4 linked regions of the Homo sapiens genome follow. The protein of the gene in region 2 purifies or fractionates together with the protein of the main gene of each other region. This does not show direct contact. Each region holds a gene or a part of one and is shown on either strand. Other genes may lie near its edges.

The links. Proteins that work in one complex are often made in the same cells at the same time.
Region 1: the proteins of TMOD4 (region 2) and KAT14 purify together in Homo sapiens (affinity purification with mass spectrometry; 2 studies listed by BioGRID and IntAct, with this or other methods). This does not show direct contact.
Region 3: the proteins of TMOD4 (region 2) and NELFA purify together in Homo sapiens (affinity purification with mass spectrometry; 2 studies listed by BioGRID and IntAct, with this or other methods). This does not show direct contact.
Region 4: the proteins of TMOD4 (region 2) and GIT2 purify together in Homo sapiens (affinity purification with mass spectrometry; 2 studies listed by BioGRID and IntAct, with this or other methods). This does not show direct contact.

What each region holds. Positions count from the first base shown.
Region 1 is NC_000020.11:18,144,363-18,148,609, reverse strand, and holds part of KAT14 (cysteine-rich protein 2-binding protein), read right to left. Parts: intron 3,512-4,247; exon of another isoform or gene 3,378-3,511; coding exon 3,259-3,377; intron 1-3,258. UniProt on the Homo sapiens protein: Component of the ATAC complex, a complex with histone acetyltransferase activity on histones H3 and H4. May function as a scaffold for the ATAC complex to promote ATAC complex stability. Has also weak histone acetyltransferase activity toward histone H4.
Region 2 is NC_000001.11:151,173,182-151,178,656, forward strand, and holds the start of TMOD4 (tropomodulin-4), read right to left. Parts: upstream 2,801-5,475; 5' UTR 2,743-2,800; exon of another isoform or gene 1,737-2,742; 5' UTR 1,695-1,736; coding exon 1,572-1,694; intron 1,367-1,571; coding exon 1,210-1,366; intron 435-1,209; coding exon 318-434; intron 1-317. Other genes in the region: VPS72 (vacuolar protein sorting-associated protein 72 homolog), read right to left, coding at 3,463-3,883, 4,820-4,964. UniProt on the Homo sapiens protein: Blocks the elongation and depolymerization of the actin filaments at the pointed end. The Tmod/TM complex contributes to the formation of the short actin protofilament, which in turn defines the geometry of the membrane skeleton.
Region 3 is NC_000004.12:2,005,428-2,010,201, forward strand, and holds the start of NELFA (negative elongation factor A), read right to left. Parts: upstream 3,548-4,774; 5' UTR 3,533-3,547; coding exon 3,323-3,532; intron 2,620-3,322; coding exon of another isoform or gene 2,536-2,619; intron 1-2,535. Other genes in the region: uncharacterized protein LOC124900839, read right to left, coding at 3,579-4,334. UniProt on the Homo sapiens protein: Essential component of the NELF complex, a complex that negatively regulates the elongation of transcription by RNA polymerase II.
Region 4 is NC_000012.12:109,947,122-109,951,368, reverse strand, and holds part of GIT2 (ARF GTPase-activating protein GIT2), read left to right. Parts: intron 1-52; coding exon 53-202; intron 203-2,522; coding exon of another isoform or gene 2,523-2,546; exon of another isoform or gene 2,547-3,864; coding exon 3,865-4,113; intron 4,114-4,247. UniProt on the Homo sapiens protein: GTPase-activating protein for ADP ribosylation factor family members, including ARF1.

The DNA of each region.
Region 1 (4,247 bases), on a different chromosome or scaffold from region 2:
AAAAAATGAACCCCAGTTTAGTTTTCTGCTCTCATGTTACCAGACCAAGCTCATCAGTAATGAGGCTGATCTTGTGGACCAATGTATCCACAGGGCCTAGCTCAGAGCTGGCAGGTACTCAGTATATGCTGAAGAACACTAGAAAAATAACAAGCAAAGATCGATCATAGTATCTTTACTTGTGCCATAAGAATGAGTCTCCAGGAAAAGAATGCAAAAACTTCCCTATCCTTCCCAAATGTTTGATAAAGTTTCTCCTACGTATGGAACTGCTATTCACAGGAGTCACCAAGGAAGAGGAGAGGACACAGAAAGGGAGTGTGGCAAGAAGGGGCTTTTTAATCAGGAGATCAGACCTCTTTACTGTAAGTATTTTATAATACAAACAAAATGCTATTTGTGTTACAAGCATTTCTACATATTTCTTTGGTAAATCTTTCAAAGTTTAAAATTTAAAGACGGAAAACCCACATTTCAATATACTAAGAATGTGGCTACATCAATGGAGTCCATTCAAGACCAACTGATTCTCTTTCAGGTCTTCAGTGAGAGATGGGCTTTTTCAGATGCAACTAGAAATACTGGTCAGTTGTTTGCTAAGAACCACATATGTGCAACCTAAGTTATCACTTCACCCTACCAGGTTAGTATCCACCATCAATACGTATTTTGGAAGTGAAAAAATAATCTGCAAGTTATGTTAGTCTAATTAAATATGCAAAGTGGCCGGGCACGGTGGCTCACGCCTGTAATCCCAGCACTTTGGGATGCCGAGGTGGGTGGATCACCTGAGGTCAGGAGTTCGAGACCAGCCTGGCCAACATGGCAAAACCCCATCTCTACTAAAAATACAAAAAATTAGCCAGGCATGGTGGCACATGCCTGTAATCCCAGCTACTAGAGGGGCTGAGGCAGGAGGATTGCTTGAACCTGGGAGGCGGAGGTTGCAGTGAGCCGAGATTGTGCCACTGCACTCCAGCCTGAGCAACAGAGTGAGACTGTGCCTCAAAAAGATTTAAAATTTTTTTTTAAAAAGAATAAATAAATATGCAAAGTGAGCCAATATTACATACTCTGAGCAAAATAAGCAAAAGCCAGCTTTTCTTTTAAAAAGAACCACTACAGAAAACTCACATTTTTGAAAATTTACATATATTTGCTCTTCTTCCATTTTACAGCTTTTATGAGAAACAACTTGCAGGACAAATACAAATCTACCTGTGTGCACATATCACAATAATCTATTAATAAGATCTTGCCTACACACAGTATCCCATGTACACTTGAGAAAAATGTCCCAGTTATAATATTCATAAGGCTCTATCCTCAATACAAACTTCTCTTCATTTTCTACTTACATTTTTTTCAGGCAAGTCAAAGAAAAGGCTTCCTAATTCAACACTGACAGATTTCATCAGCTGTCCTAATAAAGCACTGATAATTAAGATAATAGACGAAGGCTGCTAAGGCAACTACAATTTACAAGGAACACCATAAGTGGCTAAAATGGTGTAATTTAAAATCTTTCTCATTACTCTATTTCCTTCAAAGTAAAAAGTGCTGTGGGTAATTATCTTGTTGATCTGTTTATTATCAAAATTAAGTATAGAATGTCAGCTGTCTTGGGGCAGAGGCCTTAGCTGTCTCGTTCACCACAGTAGTCTCAGGCCTAGAACAGCACCTGGTTCATAACAGGTACTCAGTATCTGTTGAATGAATGAATGAACATAAAAACTAAGTAATATATAATTTTTTTTTTTTTGAGATGGGGTCTCACTCTGTCACCACCCAGGCTGGAGTACAGTGGCTCGATCACAGCTCATTGCAGCCTCAACCTCCCAGGCTCAAGCAACCCTCCCACATCAGTCTCCTGAGAAGCTGGGACCACAGGAGTGCACCACCACCACATTCAGCTAATTTTTGTATTGTTTTGTTTTTTTGGTTTTTTTTGAGATGGACTTTCACTCTTGTTGCCTAGGCTGTAGTGCAGTGGCGCGATCTCGGCTCACTGCAACCTCCGCCTCCTGGGTTCAAGCAATTCTCCTGCCTCAGCCTCCCAAGTAGCTGGGATTACAGGCATGTGCCACCGCACCCAGCTAATTTTGTATTTTTAGTAGAGACGGTGTTTCTCCATGTTGGTCAGGCTGGTCTCGAACTCCCGACCTCAGGTGATCTGCCTCCCTCAGCCTCCCAAAGTGCTGGGATTACAGGCATGAGCCACCGCGCCTGGCCTGTTTTTTATAGAGTCGGGGTTTCACCACGTTGCCCAGGCTTGTCTCCTGAGCTCAGGTGATCTGGCCGCCTCCGCCTCCCAAAGTGCTGGGATTACAGATGTGAGCCACCATGTCTGGTTTCATCTGGTTTTTGAACTAAAAAGTATACACTGATGCCTTATTATTCATATTATACATTAACATATTGACATAGAAACAAAACTAAAACAATTTAATACAACCTGGAGATCAGCAAAAAGCTATTGTTTAGGATACAGCTGACTTAGATTAGGGTGCTGATATTAGAGACAGTTAAAAAGGAACAAGTATTTCAGCAAACAAAAATTCAAACATCTCCGAGTTCAAATGCAGAAAAGCTGGGTTATGTTGGTTTTTGCAATCAGTCACCTTCCTTCTTCCAAATCTATTTTCAACATAGCCATCTTTCCACTTTAAAAAAATAGTTTTATTGTTCTTAAAATGGCTGCCAGGAAAATGAGAATTTCATTTTCAATTATAATCAGAGCTTGGTATCACATATAAAAGAAATCATGAGATTCTCAAGCCTCTCAAGCCCAATTCACCAAGTCAGCAGTGAATATATTTTTTTTTTTTTGAAAAGGAGTCACACTTTGTCGCCCAAGCTGGAGTACAGTGGCACGGTGTGGGCTCACTGCAGCCTCCGCCTCCCAGGTTCAAGCGATTCTCCTGCCTCAGTCTCCCAGGTAGTTGGGATTACAGGGGCCCACCACCATAGCCAGCTAATTTTTGTATTTTCAATGGAAATGGGGTTTCACCATGTTGGCCAGGCTGGTCTCGAAGTCCTGACCTCAGGTGATCTGCCCGCCTTGGCCTCCCAGAGTGCTGGGATTACAGCGAGTATTTTTCACTCCCTTCTCCACATATTCGGTATCTAATTTCATTGCGAAATAAAAAGTGCCCCTCCAAACAACTCAAAAGCTCATCCCTAAGTTTCTAGATATTCGTTCCAACAAACTCCTGGGGGAACCACCCTCATGGATTTGGGGAAGGGCTTTTTACTCACTTGCTGCCATGTCAGCTTCAGCCTTTCATACTGCTCCTTGCCATCTGCTGAGCAATCCGAACAAGTAAACCTAAAAAAATTATCACCCTTAAGGTAACTGAGCTGTTCCCTCAGCTGACCTAGGAGAAAAACAAAAAGTCACATCATGGGTTTATCTAGAGCAGCGGTAACCTAAAGGTTTAATCCGTTTATCACCCAGATTTTCCTTTCCCATGTTGTCTTCTTTTCTTCAGCCAACCCACAATTGCAAAATGGGGAAAAGGAAGGGAATTAGAAAGATTTCTATTCTTCTAACACCAAGTATACGCCCACTAAGATCTGTAGGATCCAGTAACTTTTAGGAGAAAGGTACTGGAAAAGCAGGTATTGTTGCTGGATTTCCCAATTGTCACATTCCTGACTCCCAGAGGCAGGTCTCTTCACACATTCTTTCAAAAAATATGAGCTCCCTCTGCATACCAGGCACTGGGCTAGGAACTGGGAATACAAAGTCCAAGACAGATAATGGTGCCTGATCTCACAGGTTTGCACTTCCCTGAGGGCTGCATAGAAAACAGGTGATCACAACAACACAGTGGTTCTCCATGCTCACAGTGCATTGGAATCACCCAAGTTGTTCTTGGTTTTCTAAATATGCTTGATTCTAGCCCAGATAAAATGCATCAATTTCTGAAGCAGAGCCTAGGAGTTACATTTCTTAGTCCCTCAGGTGATGCTGATGCTCTGTGACACATAAGGAATGGAATGTGCTGTGTACCACAGGGCAGTGTGAGGGTAAATAAAAGGAGGCCCAACCTATATTAGGGGGAGGCTTAGGATTAGAAATTGGCCAGGTGAAAAGGGGTCTCTTTGTGTATAGGGAGAATGGAGGCTGTGGAGATGCATATTCCAGAAGAAAAAAACTGTGCAAAGCCCTAAGGATAAGAATTGTTTGTGAAGAATAAGTTCACCCTAACTGCAAAGTTGTGTGGGAATCAAAGAAACTACAG
Region 2 (5,475 bases):
CCGAGCTCAGGCAATCCTGAGTGCTCCCAAGTGCACTCAGGCCTCCCAAGTGCTGAGGTTACAGGTGTGAGTCATGGTGCCTGGCCCAATGATTCCACTTTTATTTGCTCTTACAATCCCTGTAAAATTGCTCTTGAGGTGTTATTAAATTTAAAAATGAATAAATATATAAACAAACAAGAAAAGCTTGAAACTACTGCTTGACGCTTTCTTAGACATCCACATTCTGGTTGAGGGCCTTCCTCACTAGTCCCATGTCATGGCTAGAATCCACCTGCCCCTGATCCTCTCACCCTCAACTTCCCACAGCTACCCACCTGCAATGTCACACATTTCAGCATCTGTGGCATGTGCCAGTGCCTCCTCCAGCTCAGGCTCCAGGGTGATCTGCTCCTCTGCTGGGATTTCCCTCTTGGGCTGAATATAGGGTTTCCCTGATGGGGAGATGAAGGATGGCTCAGGTAGAGGTAATTTCTCCCAAGATCCTGGCCTCCAGGTTTCCTTCCTCCTCCAGGAGGTAGAATGCTGCGTCACGAAGGGACACTGGAAAGCCTGAGTCCTCTACAAACTCAAGAGTCCTTAGCCCCCTGATCTCTCAAGAACTGAAGAGTGCGGGGCTGGGCGCTGTGGCTCACGCCTGTAATCCCAGCACTTGGGGAGGCCGAGGCGGGTGGATCATGAGGTCAGGAGATCGAGACCATCCTGGCTAACATGGTGAAACCCCATCTCTACTAAAAATACAAAAAATTAGCGGCCGGGCACGGTGGCTCATGCCTGTAATCCCAGCACTTTGGGAGGCTAAGGCGGGCAGATCACGAGGTCAGGAGATCGAGACCATCCTGGCTAACACAGTGAAACCCCATCTCTACTAAAAATACTAAAAAATTAGCCGGGCGTGGTGGTGGGCGCCTGTAGTCCCAGCTACTCGGGGGGCTGAGGCAGGAGAATGGCGTGAACCCGGGAGGTGGAGCTTGCAGTGAGCCGAGACTGCACCACTGCACTCCAGCCTGGGCAACAGAGTGAGACTCCGTCTCAAACAAAAAGAAAAAAAAAAGAACTGAAGAGTGCAAGCTCGCATTTAAGTGTCAGGGCATCTGAGTCCCTAGGCAACTAGGAGCTGGAAGGTGAGAGGGAAACTGGAGTGGGGACGAGTGAGAGACAGCACAGCCACTTGGGTTCTACGAGGCATGGATGTCAGGGTCCCCATACCCTTCTTCTCGCCTGTGAAGGGCACCAAGTCATCACGCTCTTTGACTTCTAGTGCCTGTTGCTCCAAGTACTGCAAAAGGGCCTCTCGGTCCAGTGGCCCCGTTGGGCTCTTCTTTGTCTGGTCACGTTGTCTTAGTCCAGCTGGCAGGAGCATGTTCTTAGGGATGAGTTTTGGGGAGCAAGTCAGACCTCCCCTCTGACCTAGGTACTGCTAGGGCTCCCTAAAACATCACCGGACACCTTTCCCCTGGCCTTCTTAGGACCCTAGGTCCTGTAGCAAACCCTATTCTCAGCCACCCAGAGCCCAACACCCTTCCCAAATGCCTGGGACTGCCTCTGGTTCCCTGTGCTGGAGCCCCTACCTCAGGATCCATCTCCTGTAGTTCGCAGTCCAGCTGCTCTAGCTCCTCGGGGCTCAAGGTCCTTAGGATCTCATCTTCATCTATGTCTCTGTATTTCTCCAGTTCCTTCTGATATGATGACATGGTGGCCCCCACCCCCTCCCCACTGTGTGGTACTCACAGAGCCTGGGCAACATGGGACAAAAGGATGGACAATGGTAAGATGGACAGGGACACAGCAGGGACACAAAGAGACCAGCCAGGGGGGCAGAACATTGGATTGGATTTCTTGGAGATTAGAAGTCTAGTTGAGGATGGGAAGTGGGGAAGATTAGGTTGTTTAGAGTTAGAACTAGAGTCTCCTTTCTGCTTCCCCAGCTTCCAGCCACTCTGGATGGGGATCCCAGACATCTAAGCTGGGTTTGTCTTCCCACGGTATGACAGAGAAATCCTGGCAGCACCCCTCCCCTATAACCTCACTTGTCAGTGCCTTCGCCCTAACACAGCTGCTGGAAGCCCTGCCAACACAGCTGGTCCTATGCCCAGTTCCTATTGAAAGGGGATGAGGGGTGGGGGAATAGAGAGCTTCAGGGAAATTCCTCCTCTCCTCCTCATAATCCAGGCTTTTTCCTAAACCGGATAAAAAAACCAAGGACAATGAGGTGTAAGGGGAAGAGAGAGTCTCTTACCCCATCCTCATTTCCCTTTTATTGTGGGGGATCAAGATTTCACTTTCTGTGTTTGCTAAAATTTGAAGTCTTAAGGGAAAGCAAGGGCTCGGAGCAGTTGGGGGACTTCCAGGTTGGGGGAAGGGTAGTAAGGCCTCTGTGAGTCCCCATAATCTGTCCCTTGCTTTGGACAGGAAGGTGACACCAGACCAATGGGTGTAAATAGGGTAAAGTTTCTTTAAAAACAGTGGGAATATTAAACTCGCACAATTTTGTACAATATAAGATACGCATAAGGAGCTATGCATACACACCATGCTGAATATGAAAGATCCAGAAAGTATGTGAGACACATCGACAATGTAAACTATACACAGTTAAGGGGTAGGACGGCACAGTGGCAGAAATATACACTGAGTGACAGAGACAGGGACACACTCCACATCATTCCCCATAGGAGCCACTCTTCTCCTCCCATCTCCCACCGGGCTCTCATCCATAAGCCCCCTGTCTTCCCCACCTACCAGTCCTGGTGGTCACCTCCCTTCTCACCTCCCCTGTGTCAGTAGGTCTGTCTGTTCTACTAGAGCACTGTCCCAGCAGCAGGAGGAGCCCGGTGCCGGGGGAGAGGGTGGGGGAACAGTGAGCTCAGCATTTTATTATTTTAGCTCTGGCCAGGTGGGGGGTAGTGGGAGATCACATATACACAGCCCCCATACCCTGCCCAGCCCTGAGAGCCTCTAGTGGTCATTAACAGCCATGGCATCTCTTCCACTTCCCTTCATACAAGCCCCAGTCTGAGACATATGAGTTCGACTAGAATCAGCCAGTTCCTCCTTATTTGGTGCCTGCTGTATTCAAAACAGTGAGTGTAAAGTGATAGGAAGGTCAATACAAGGATGTGTTTTGGTGTGCAATTTTCAGATGTTTATAATTTAGTTGGAGGAATGAATACAATTTAGAAAGGACAGCTCATAATAAATGCTATCGAATAAAGACCCAAATATATGCAGGTATTCAAATACTTCTTGCTCCCAACCCTAGACTGGACACCAGACAAAAGGGATCTTTCTATTTTATTAGATTAAAAAACACAACGAAACCTGTAAGAACTAGGGGAAAAGGAAAAAGAAACAGATTAGGCAAAGATCAGAGATGACAAAGGGGAGAAGCAGGGAGAAGAAACGGAACAGCAAGAGCCCCAATCAGGGCAGGAAAGAAGTTTCTGAGGACTAGACATCTCTTCATTTAATGACAATTTTCTGGCGCAAGGCTCGGGGCCCAGAGCCAGGGAGGGGCTCAGGAGGTGGCGGGCCGGGGCCCAGGGCTGAGGCAGTGGGCGGCAGTCCATGGGCAGTAATGTACTTCTTGTAAGCCTCACGAATGATCTTGAAGGCTCGAGCAGTGGCATAGGGTATGTCTGTAACAGGGTCCCGGTATAGGGCTGGACGATGGGTCACTGGACAGACCTCACGAACAGGGACTTTTGGGGGCCGCCCTTGGGGGAACCATTCCTCGAAAGTTGCATCATCACTAAAAGTGATGAAGGTACGTGAGCAGCGAGCAGGGGGGTTGACGGGTCCAGTCCCAGCATGAGGAGTCAATGCAGACACCGAGGGAGCAGGATCAAGTCTGAGGACAAAAGACAAGGAAAAACACAAAGAGCTGAGGAGAGAAGACAACAGATACAGAAAGAAGGAAATCAGGCTGGGTGCAGTGGCTCACACCTGTAATTCCAGCACTTTGGGAGGCTGAGGCAGGCAGATGACGAGGTCAGGAGTTCGAGACCAGCCTGACTAACAAGGTGAAACCCTGTCTCTACTAAAAATACAAAAATTAGCCGGGCGTGGTGGCGGATGCCTGTAATCACAGCTACTCAGGAGGTTGAGGCAGGAGAATCACTTGAAGCCAGGAGGCGGAGGTTGCATGGAACCAAGATCGTGCCATTACACTCCAGCCTGGGTGACAGAGCAGCGAGACTCCATCTCAAAAAAAAAAAAAAAAGAAAAGAAAGAAAGAAGGAAATCAGAGAGATGAGGAAAGAGAAAAAGGAGGCAGGGTGTTGGGAACATTCTGAGGAACGTACTAAGTGACTGATGGGAAAAGAAAGCTAGGCTAGAAGGAAAAACAGGAAAGAGAAGAACAGAGAAGCTAAAAGAAAAAGGAATAAGAAAGAAATAAGCTGGGCTGGGCGCGGTGGCTCACACCTGTAATCCCAGTATTTTAGGAAGATGAAGCGGGACGATTACTTTAACCCAGGAGTCTGGGCAACACAGCGAAACCGTCTCTACAAAAAATACAAAAATTAGCATGTGTGGCTGTACTCCCAGCTACTTGGGAGGCTAAGGTGGGAGGATCGCCTGAGCACAGGAGGTGGAGGTTGCAGTGAGCCGAGACTGCACCACTGCATTCCAGCCTAGGTGACAGAGCAGCATCATGTCTCAAAAAAAAAAAAAGAAAAAGAAATTGAGCTGAAGGGAGTTAGGAATCTGAAAGAAATCTCCAAGTGTTAAGGAGAGCTGTGTGAGAAAAGCAAGCAAAATGGGGCCAAGAGAACATGAGCTGAACACACAATCTCTTTTCCTCTTGAGATTCACTCACCCTTCTATGTCAACGTTCTCTTCCTTGGGGCCTGGCTCCCCAACAAGTGGCACTGTCACTGAATGATAGGTGATTATGGGCCCGGGGCACTTCCGCTTCTTATGAACCTGCTTCTTTTTATCAGCCTCGAGCCGCTCATATGTCTCTTTAGGGTCAAAGGAAGAAATGAGGGGATGATCAGAATGTCCCTTTTTCCCATATCCCAGTACTGTCCCACGATCTCTCAATTATCTTCCTGGCTATCTAGTCACTGCCAACTACCAGAGACAACTATGGAAGTCCCCTAAGGCCGTCTGGCACCTCCCATTTTGTAAGTTTTCTGCTTATAAGTTTTTTCTTGACATCCTCTCTGCTCATTTCTCAAGTACACCTGGGCCCTCTATAGTACCTCAGAGTTGGAAGGTACCCTTTGATGAGGAGCTTATTTGCTTTCCCAGATACCAAAATCTCCTCTACAAATGCCCTGTCAATTCACTCCTACAGCTGGGTGTGCTGGCACACGCCTGTAATCCCAGCTACTTGGGAAGCTGAGGTGGAAGGATCGCTTGAGCCAGGGAGGTGGAGGTTGCAGTGAGCTGAGATGGCACCACATTGCACTCCAGCCTAGGCAGCAGAGTGAGATCATATCTCCAAAAAAAAAATTAGTAAGGTAGGAA
Region 3 (4,774 bases), on a different chromosome or scaffold from region 2:
GTCACAAATTCATTATCCAAAAATCAGGCTGGGCATAGTGGCTCACCTGAGGTCAGGAGTTCGAGAGCAGCCTGGCCAACATGGTGAAACCCCATCTCTACTAAAAATACAAAAATTAGCCAGGTGTGGTGGTGCATGCCTGTAATCCCAGTTACTCGGGAAGCTAAGGTAGGAGAATCACCTGAGCTCAGGAGGAGGAGGTTGCAGTGAGCTGAGATCGCGCCACTGCTCTCCAGCCTGGGTGAGAGAGTGAGATCTCCGTCTAAAAAACAAACAAACAAACAAACAAACAAAAACAAAAATCAACGCATTTCTATATACCAGCAACAAGTAAAAACTAAGACTTTAACAGATACCATTTACAACGGCATGGAAAAATATGAAATAGGTGGTAATATATGAGATGGAAGACCCCTACAGAGATCACAAAGAACATCTAAATAGATAAGCCCACACCCACAAATTATAGGATGCAATATAAAGAGGACAGCACCCCAGAATGAACTGCAAGTTCAGCTCAGCCTTAAAATCCCAGCAGGCAGGCTCTACGTGTTTAAGAAGTAAGTATATAAGATACATGTGGAAGTGTGAAGGGACAAGAATAGCCATAGATGATCCCGGAGAAAGATACAGTGGGAGGGTTTGCTCCGTCCGCTAACAAGGCTTATAAATAAAGTGACAAGAACCGACTTAGTGGGTTATTAGCACATCGATATGTAAATGACCAAAAGAACAGAGCACAGCCCAGAAACACATCCACAGCAGAAGCTGCAGTGCAGATCAATGGAAAAGGACAGTCATTTCAATCAACGTTGGGTGCTGGACTAATTGCACATCCATGTGGAAAATTAGACTCCCTGCTTCACACAATCATCAATTCCACGCAGACTGAAGATTCAAGTGCGAAAGGTAAAACTGTACAGCTACGCCAAGATAACCCAGGGAGTGTTCCGGGCATGTCCCTCGGGGAGACACAATAGGCACCAATGATAGTGGGCGGATGAATACACCATCTATGTTAAAACTAGGAGCTTCTATTCATCCATGATTCCAGGAAAAGGGCTGGGCGCACAGATCACACCTGTAATCCCAACACTATGGGAGGCCAAGGCAGGAGGATCACTTGAGGCTAGGAGTTCAAGACCAGCCTGGGCAATACAGTAAGACCCCCATCTCCATACACATGCACAAAAATTAGCCAGGCGTGGTGGCAGCGCATCAGTCCCAGCTACTACAGAGGTTTAGGAGGGAGGACTGCTTAAGCCCAGGAGTTCAAGGTTAAAGTGAGCTATGATTATACCACTAGACTCTAGCCTGGGTGACAGAGTGAGACGCTGTCTCAAAAAAAAAAAAAAAAAAAAAAAAAAGGATTCCAGGAAGCTAAGTCAAAGTCAAAGGACAACTGGGAGATATTTGTAACTGAAAAAGGACTGATATCTAGCATTTATAATAAATAATAAAAAAGACACTCTTACAAAACAATGGGAAAAAAGAGAATTTAAAAGCAGATTTGAATATACAATTCTCAAAGCAGAAAACCAAACAGCAGGCCGAGTGCCATGGCTCACACCTGTAATCCCAGCCCTTCAGGAGGCTGAGGCAAGCAGATTGCTTGAGGTCAGGAGTTCAAGACCAGCCTGGGCAGCATGGTGAAACCCTGTAGTCCCAGCTACTCAGGAGGCTGAGATGGGAAGATCTGAGGTGAGGAGGTCAAGGCTGCAGTGAGTCACGATGGTGCCACTGCACTCCAGCCTGGTTGACAGCGCCAGACCCTGTCTCAAACAAAACACAAACACAAAAACAAAACACTCTGAAAAATAATTTGGCATGATCCTATGATCCTCACAATTCCACTCCTAGATGTTATACCCTAGAGAAATCCAAGATTCCAAACACCTGAACATATGACCGTAATGTAGTAACGGGATGATTTACAAGAGCACAAAAGCTAAGCGTGTCACTGTGGCAGAATGGATAAAGTGCCTCGTGCTCACAGACAGGAATACCACGCAGCAGTGAAAATTAAACTGCAGTCAGCTGCAACGTGGATGAAACTGTCACGGCGTCGACCAAAAAGACACATGCACGCCACACACAAAATACACTATGATACCATCACACTAACTCCAAATCCGGCAACCAAGCTGTGCCATTTAGGGGTGCATAAATAATTGCTCACACCGGGGAGATGGCACAGAAATGATTACCTTTCCAAAATGAGGAAGGGGAAAGGAAGAAGGCCGTGATTACCAGTGGGAGGCTTCCAAGGAACAGGCATGGTTCTACTTCTCCACCTGTGTAAGGATCACAGGAGTGGCTCGCGATGCTATTATTATTCGTTAAACTGAACAAAAATGCACTTTTCCATACATGTCATATCTCAATCAAAAGCAATTACAACCTATAATAGCTAATAATACATCAGTAGCCAGGAACGTTTAAACAACCATGGGGCTTCAATAGTCTGCAAAACTACTCGGTTTATTTCGCACGGAAAGCGATACAATATAAAGTTTAGGAAAAAAGAAAACAAACCTCACACACCCACTTATTGGAATGACGCAAAACGGCGTGTAGAAAAGAGTAAAACGGACACAGAGCGCTCCGGACGGCCGGGGTCTTTGCGAGGTGAGAACAAGAAAATCCAGTCAGCGGACACTGGAGCTACCGAGCCCAGGCCGCCCCTTCCTCACGCGGGGGTTTCTCTCGGGATCCCCGCCCTCGCCCAGGTCACCAGGGCTGCGTCCCCGACGGGAAACCCCGATGGGAGACCCCGCTGGGGCCGGCGCACCCCCGCTCCAAGAGTCGGTCGCTTCGGCACGGTGGGGGATTAGGGTGGTGAGGACCGAAGGCGGGGGAGGCGGGGGCGGGTGGGGATGAGTACCCGGGGGCCCAGGGAGGGGAGTGAGGACCTGGGGGTCGTAGCGAGAACCCGGGGCCCGGCGGGGAGGAGATTGAGGATCCCAGGGGAGGTGAAAACTTGGGTAGGGGTGAGGACGAAAAGTAGGGAGGTGAGGACCCTAGTGGGGGATTCCCAGGGGGCGAGGAGGGGCGGGGGGTCCTGAAGACCCACGGTGGGGATGAGAACCGAGGTGGGAGATGAGGATCGAGGCGGGGGATGAGGACCCAGGGGGAGGTGAGGACTGGAGGGAGGTATTCGGAGGAGCGAGGAGGGGGCGTGAGGGCGGGCCGGGGGGGTTAACAGTCTGAAGGGGGATGGGAAGGTTGGGGGAGGGAGCGAGGAGGGTCCGGAGTTGGGTGTGCGGGTCGGAGGTGGGAAGGTTGGGAATCTGGGGGCCGCGGGGCGCCACGCCTGCCTTACCTCGTCCACCGTGCGGCGCGGGAGGTGCAGCGTCCCGAGTAGCAACTTGAGCTTCACTGCCGACGAGAGGCCATGGAAGCAGAGACGGATGTTGTCGATGACCGCGGCCGTGAGCAGGGACGCGATGCTGGGCGGCGCCCACAGCTCGTCCGTGGCCCCCAGCTTGTTGTGCAGCCACAGGCCCGTGTCGCTCTCCCGCATGGACGCCATCTTGGGGGAAAGCGCGCGCCGCTGCCCCGGCATCTTATGAAGACACCTACGCGTCCCTCGCTAGGACCCCAACATGGCGGCGCCCGTCGGGCTGCGGGCCGCAGAGGCGGCGCAGGTGGCGCGGTCCCACGAGCGGGGCTTCCCGGGAGAGCGCTTCTGGGTGGCGACCGCGTCTCCGGGTAGCGGCCGCGTCTTCGGGAAGCTTTGTGGCAAAGCCGAGAGCCGGAAGGACGGGGTGCCGCTGAGCAAGGACTATCGGCTTCCGTAAAACATCATGGCGGCGCCCTCTGCTGGCTCTCGGGAAGACCGCAAAAAATGACGTCACGAGCAGGCGCGCGTATTCGCGTCTTGGGAGCCCGGGCTGCGGCCTGGCATTCGCAGTGCAGGTGTCAAGCGCCGCAGACTTGCTGCTCGCGCGGTGGGGCGGAGGCTCCCTGTGGCACCTGCCCCGCTGTCCGCTCTTCGCTTTTTCCCCGCTTGGGTCTCGGCGCGGACCGTGTGGACGCCCCGCCCCCGCGGGCCCAGCACCTGCACGGAGAGGAGCCGCGGCCCTGCGGAGCGAGCCTGCGGGATCCCGGTCGCAGCGCTGAGCTTCCGTCCCCCGCTGAGCCCGCTCTGCCCGTGGCGCGCCGCCGACGGGGCTGCGCTGAGCATGCGGGTCGGAGGGCGCTCGGGAGCTGTCCAGGGGCACTCGTGACCCCACAGTGCAGGGAGGCCCCGGCCCCCAGTCGGGCTGGAGCCGCCAGGCAGGAGCCAGTAGTGAACTTTTCAGTTTTAAAAGCTTGTCATTAGATACAAACATGAGTAAAAGTTAAACTTCATTTTATTAAATTCGTTTTACCCTTTTGTCTTTTTGACGAGGCCTTCCTATGTTGGCCAGGCTGGTCTCAAACTCCTGGGCTCAAGCGATCCGCCCGCCCGCCTCTGCCTCCCAGAGTGCTGGGGTTACAGGTCGGGGCCGCCTTGCTTGGCTTCTGTATTATATCTTTTTTTTAAAAGATCTTTTCCTTATTGTTCCACTGCCATGCTCCTGCCGCCGTTCACAGCTATTGCCACTGGGCGGTGGGAACGCCGGGAGAACAGGGCTCAGCCCAGCTGCTAGCAGTGCCCTGGCCCTGGCGGCTTGAACTTGGCAGTCCTGCGGAAGTCACACGGGGGAAACCCGCAAATGCTACAAATCAGTGCTGGAGCGGTGGTTTTGTTGATTGCTTAAACTGAAGAAAGTGATAGAGAAAATGTTGA
Region 4 (4,247 bases), on a different chromosome or scaffold from region 2:
TTTAATGTTCTCGTCATCTCAGATTGTGAACGTTTTCCCAATTTATTTTTAGAGCCTAGATTCAGATTTATCAGATGGACCAGTCACTGTACAGGAATTTATGGAGGTCAAAAACGCTCTAGTGGCTTCTGAGGCCAAGATACAGCAGCTAATGAAGGTGAATAACAACTTGAGTGACGAGCTGAGAATTATGCAGAAAAAGGTAACATGTTAATAAATGCCAGGACGGTTGACGCTTTAATCCCATAGTACAAGGAAGAATCTCAGGCACTGTGATGTGGTCCGAGGAAAGAAAAACAGTTATTGTAACAGCCTTAGAAATCTTTGGGCCAAGTTGTCTTTTTGAAGCAGGATGTATTTGGATATTTAAAATGAAATATATCCAGAGTAAGTTCCCCAGGTAGGAGAAACCTAACATCTATTTAAGCATTTGTGCCCATTAGAATAACCCTTGGACTATTCTGTGCTTCCTGGAAACCTGGATGGGGCTCCATGGATGTGATTCTTCCCATTGCTAGGGAAGGATGATCACACCATGGAGACAGAGCCAATGAGAGCCCTGGGCAGGGGCATGTTTATCAGCATTCAAACCCTGCTCCCACCCTGGCAGCCCTATCCCACATCCCCACCTTATTGCTCACCAGTTTTTACTACTAACTTGTATTATCCCCAGAGCCTACAGGAGGGCCTGCCACAGAGTAGGTGCTCAAAAAATAAGAAAAAACATTTCATTTGTACTAGGAAGAGCTGCACACTGGTAAAAAACAATCTCATTTGCTCAGCATTTTCTCATTCATTACCTTTTGAGAGAATCAGAACCGTGTGAATATATTAATCCCTAAAAGGAGTGTGGTTGATGGTAGCAAGGAATACCCTTAGTAGGAGGGGGATTGTGTATGCAACTCCTTATGAGATGGCTAAATAAGGGAATTCGAAAAATTGCAAATTTTGCCCATGACTTTGTGGGTATCACTCATCATTCAGCTCTAAAATGAGATTTGGACACTTTACTTAACCAGAAACAAAATGAAATATATAATCTATGTCTTTAGGCTGTCATTTGAGAAGTAAGGTTTTCAAATCATTTTCAAGACCTGAGGACGTGGCACACTCCATGTGTGCCTGGACTCTTTTCAGTGCTGCTTCCTAAAGGAAGGTGGAAGAACTAAAAAGGGGCCCATGCCCCTCTGTTTACTAGGGAAGGAAATTGCTGTGCACTTTTGCCTGGGGTTTGGTCTAGGATTCTTTTGATGTTGACTTCTAGAGCATTTTTGAGACTTTTTGAAATAAATGGCTCTAATGCCTATAGTAGCAGGGAATGAAGAATGCTTAAGATCAGCTAGCCTTAAACGAACAGACACTTGTTCTGTGTCTCCCAGCCCTGTCTAGGGCTGCCGTGCAGCTGTAAACGAGACAGACCGAGAGCCCCTTTGTCATAACATACAGGACCTGTATTTTCTTTGCCTTCTTTGGAATATATTTTATTTAGTGGATTATAGTTTGTTCCATTAATTGGACTAATAATTTTGACCAGGTGACTATTTCTGAAACATGCTGATTTTGCCACTGTAAATCAATCTGCTGCACATCACCTTTTAAAATCTAACAATGCTTCTTTTAGTATTTTTGGAAATCACCAGAGAGAGCCTCATTATCTCTGAAAGCAAATGTCTTGAGCTTCTTTGAGAAATGCAAAGTGAAATTATTTGCTTTTGCTTATTGATTATCTCATCAATTCTTAGAAGTGCTTTTGATTTCTGAAACTATTGAATTGTCTATAACTTTTTATTTTCCCTTATACTCCTTCCAAATAAAAAAGTGTAGCCTGGTTCTTATTAAGATAAACGTCATTAAAATTTATGTGAAGACATCTCTCTAAATACAGAGTACTAACATTTTTAAAAATTGAAACCAAGAACTTGTGCTCATGAGAACACATTCAGACAAAATCCAGGCATGAAAAGTGTTAGGATAAAGTTTCAGATTTCAAGGCCTTAACTAAATAACTGCCACAGAGGCTTTTTATACAGACAAACACGTGATCACATGCACCAGTGCCCCATTGAGGGACCTGTGTCAGTTACACACCTCAGTCCTTGAACCTTGACCATTTCACTCTAGGCCCTGGGTTCTCTAATGAATAGTTTCAACAGGCACTTCATGCCTGTCTGTATCCTGGAATGTAGAAATGTTCAGGGCTGCTTTGTCAGCTGCTTTGCAGCTGTTCTTTCCCTGGAAAGGGAATTGCAGATATGAGCTATACCCTGCCAGCCTTTGTGATATAAAAGCATTCTATCATTCTGTAATGGCTTGCTCTTCAGAGAAACAGAATGAGTGGTCTTTTTGTGGAAGAGGCAGTAAGTCACACTTTCACAGCAGTTTGGCATGATTAATATAAAGTATATGGAATTTGTTTATTTAGCAAAGATGTATTGATTATATTTCAAAGTTGGGTAAAGTTTTTAATATACATAAAGTTGACAAAGTAGCATGATTTGTATCTGATCTTTCACATTTAACAGTTGCTTGGAAAAGATGCTAATTAATGAAGAGGAGCAACTACTATTGGTGTATTTTTCACAGATTGGTGCTTTCTAAATAAAAATTGAAAGTAACTCCTAACATTGAATGGGTTTGCTACTGAAAAAGTAATGATCTTCTGGTGCAAACAGTTGCTTGTGGACTTAAACCTTGGCACTGGTGGGGAATTTGGTCAGATTTTACAATCTCTGTCAAAGAGTAGACAGCTGAACTCACACCACACCCAGCTTATAGAATGTCCATGGAAGATGAAGGCGCACCAGAAGGGAAGGACCCTGCGCAGAATGGACGTGGTGAATGGTGTTTAAAATGCCAGATGCCAAAGAGTAACACGATTCCCTGCTGACCCCTTAACTCTAATCCATCCAGCACCATGGAGCAGCCTGCATGTGAGGAATGGAAGGAGCATTCAGGGCCTCCAAGTGACAGTCTCTAAAATGGGGTGGTGCCAGGCAGATTAGCATGTTCAAAGCTGACACCACTGAGGTCGTGTTTTTTGGGTGACAAAGCCAAAGGAGAGAAAGGCCAAATATTCCAGCCCTGGCCGAAAGATGATCACTCACCAGACGGAAGCAAGCGTGCTGCGTGGAGCATCCATGCGAAGATGTCAATTCCATAGATCAATAGGTTTCCAGTTTTCTTCGTGATATGTTAATATAGCAAACTTACCATGATCCGGTTTTCTCTTTTTTCTTTTTTTTTTTACAAAGTGCTGAATTGTTTGGAATATCAAGAGTATTATGTAATAAAAACTTGTTGATCATAATTTTTCTTGTTGGCTTTTTGGAAAGCAATAGGCGATCTGATTTTTCACAAGCTGAACTTCTGTCTTTCTTGCTTTGCAAAGCAACCCTAGTCATCTTTGTGCTGCTTCCATGGTGTCTGCTGTCATTTTTGGCCTTTACAAATTGCTCAGGGCTCATTTGAAAAGCAAGTTACCTAAATGATGTTTTAATGATCTCGAACTCTTGCTTGAAACAGCCTTAGTAATAATCCAGTGTACAGCTTGCCTGCAAACATTTCCCAGCCCCACCATGACAAATTTTAAAGTGGTTAGACATTTTGTTTTGAGGAAGTCCAAACCACAACTTTTCCACATTCAGAAATGAAGCTATTTAATTTGCTTACGTGATGAAGGGAGTTGATTGTGTTTCACCCAATCCAGAAGAAAGGGTCCTTGTTTGTATTGGCTTTTTACTTTCAGCCCGGCTAGCTGTTACTGTCCTTATTGTTTAAAACTGGTAGTTGTATTCATTTACTTGGTGTTTGCTTTTTCTGCTTGCTGTAAAAAAACACAGTCCCACTGCCAAACATTTCTTTCAGCTTCAAACACTCCAGAGTGAAAATTCGAACCTCAGGAAACAGGCCACAACCAATGTATATCAGGTGCAAACTGGTTCTGAGTACACAGACACTTCCAACCACTCTTCCTTAAAGAGACGTCCGTCTGCCCGGGGCAGTAGGCCCATGTCCATGTACGAGACCGGATCAGGTCAGAAACCATATCTCCCAATGGGAGAAGCGAGCCGCCCCGAAGAGAGCAGGATGAGACTCCAGCCCTTCCCCGCGCACGTAAGTAACACCACTGGCGCTTCTGCTGTTCACTCTATGCAGCCTGTCTACTCTGTTCCCTCTTCTGAACCTACAGGTCCCCACAGCTCTGCTTTGCCAAATTGGACTAAGAGAGTTACCATTGTGTTTGCTGT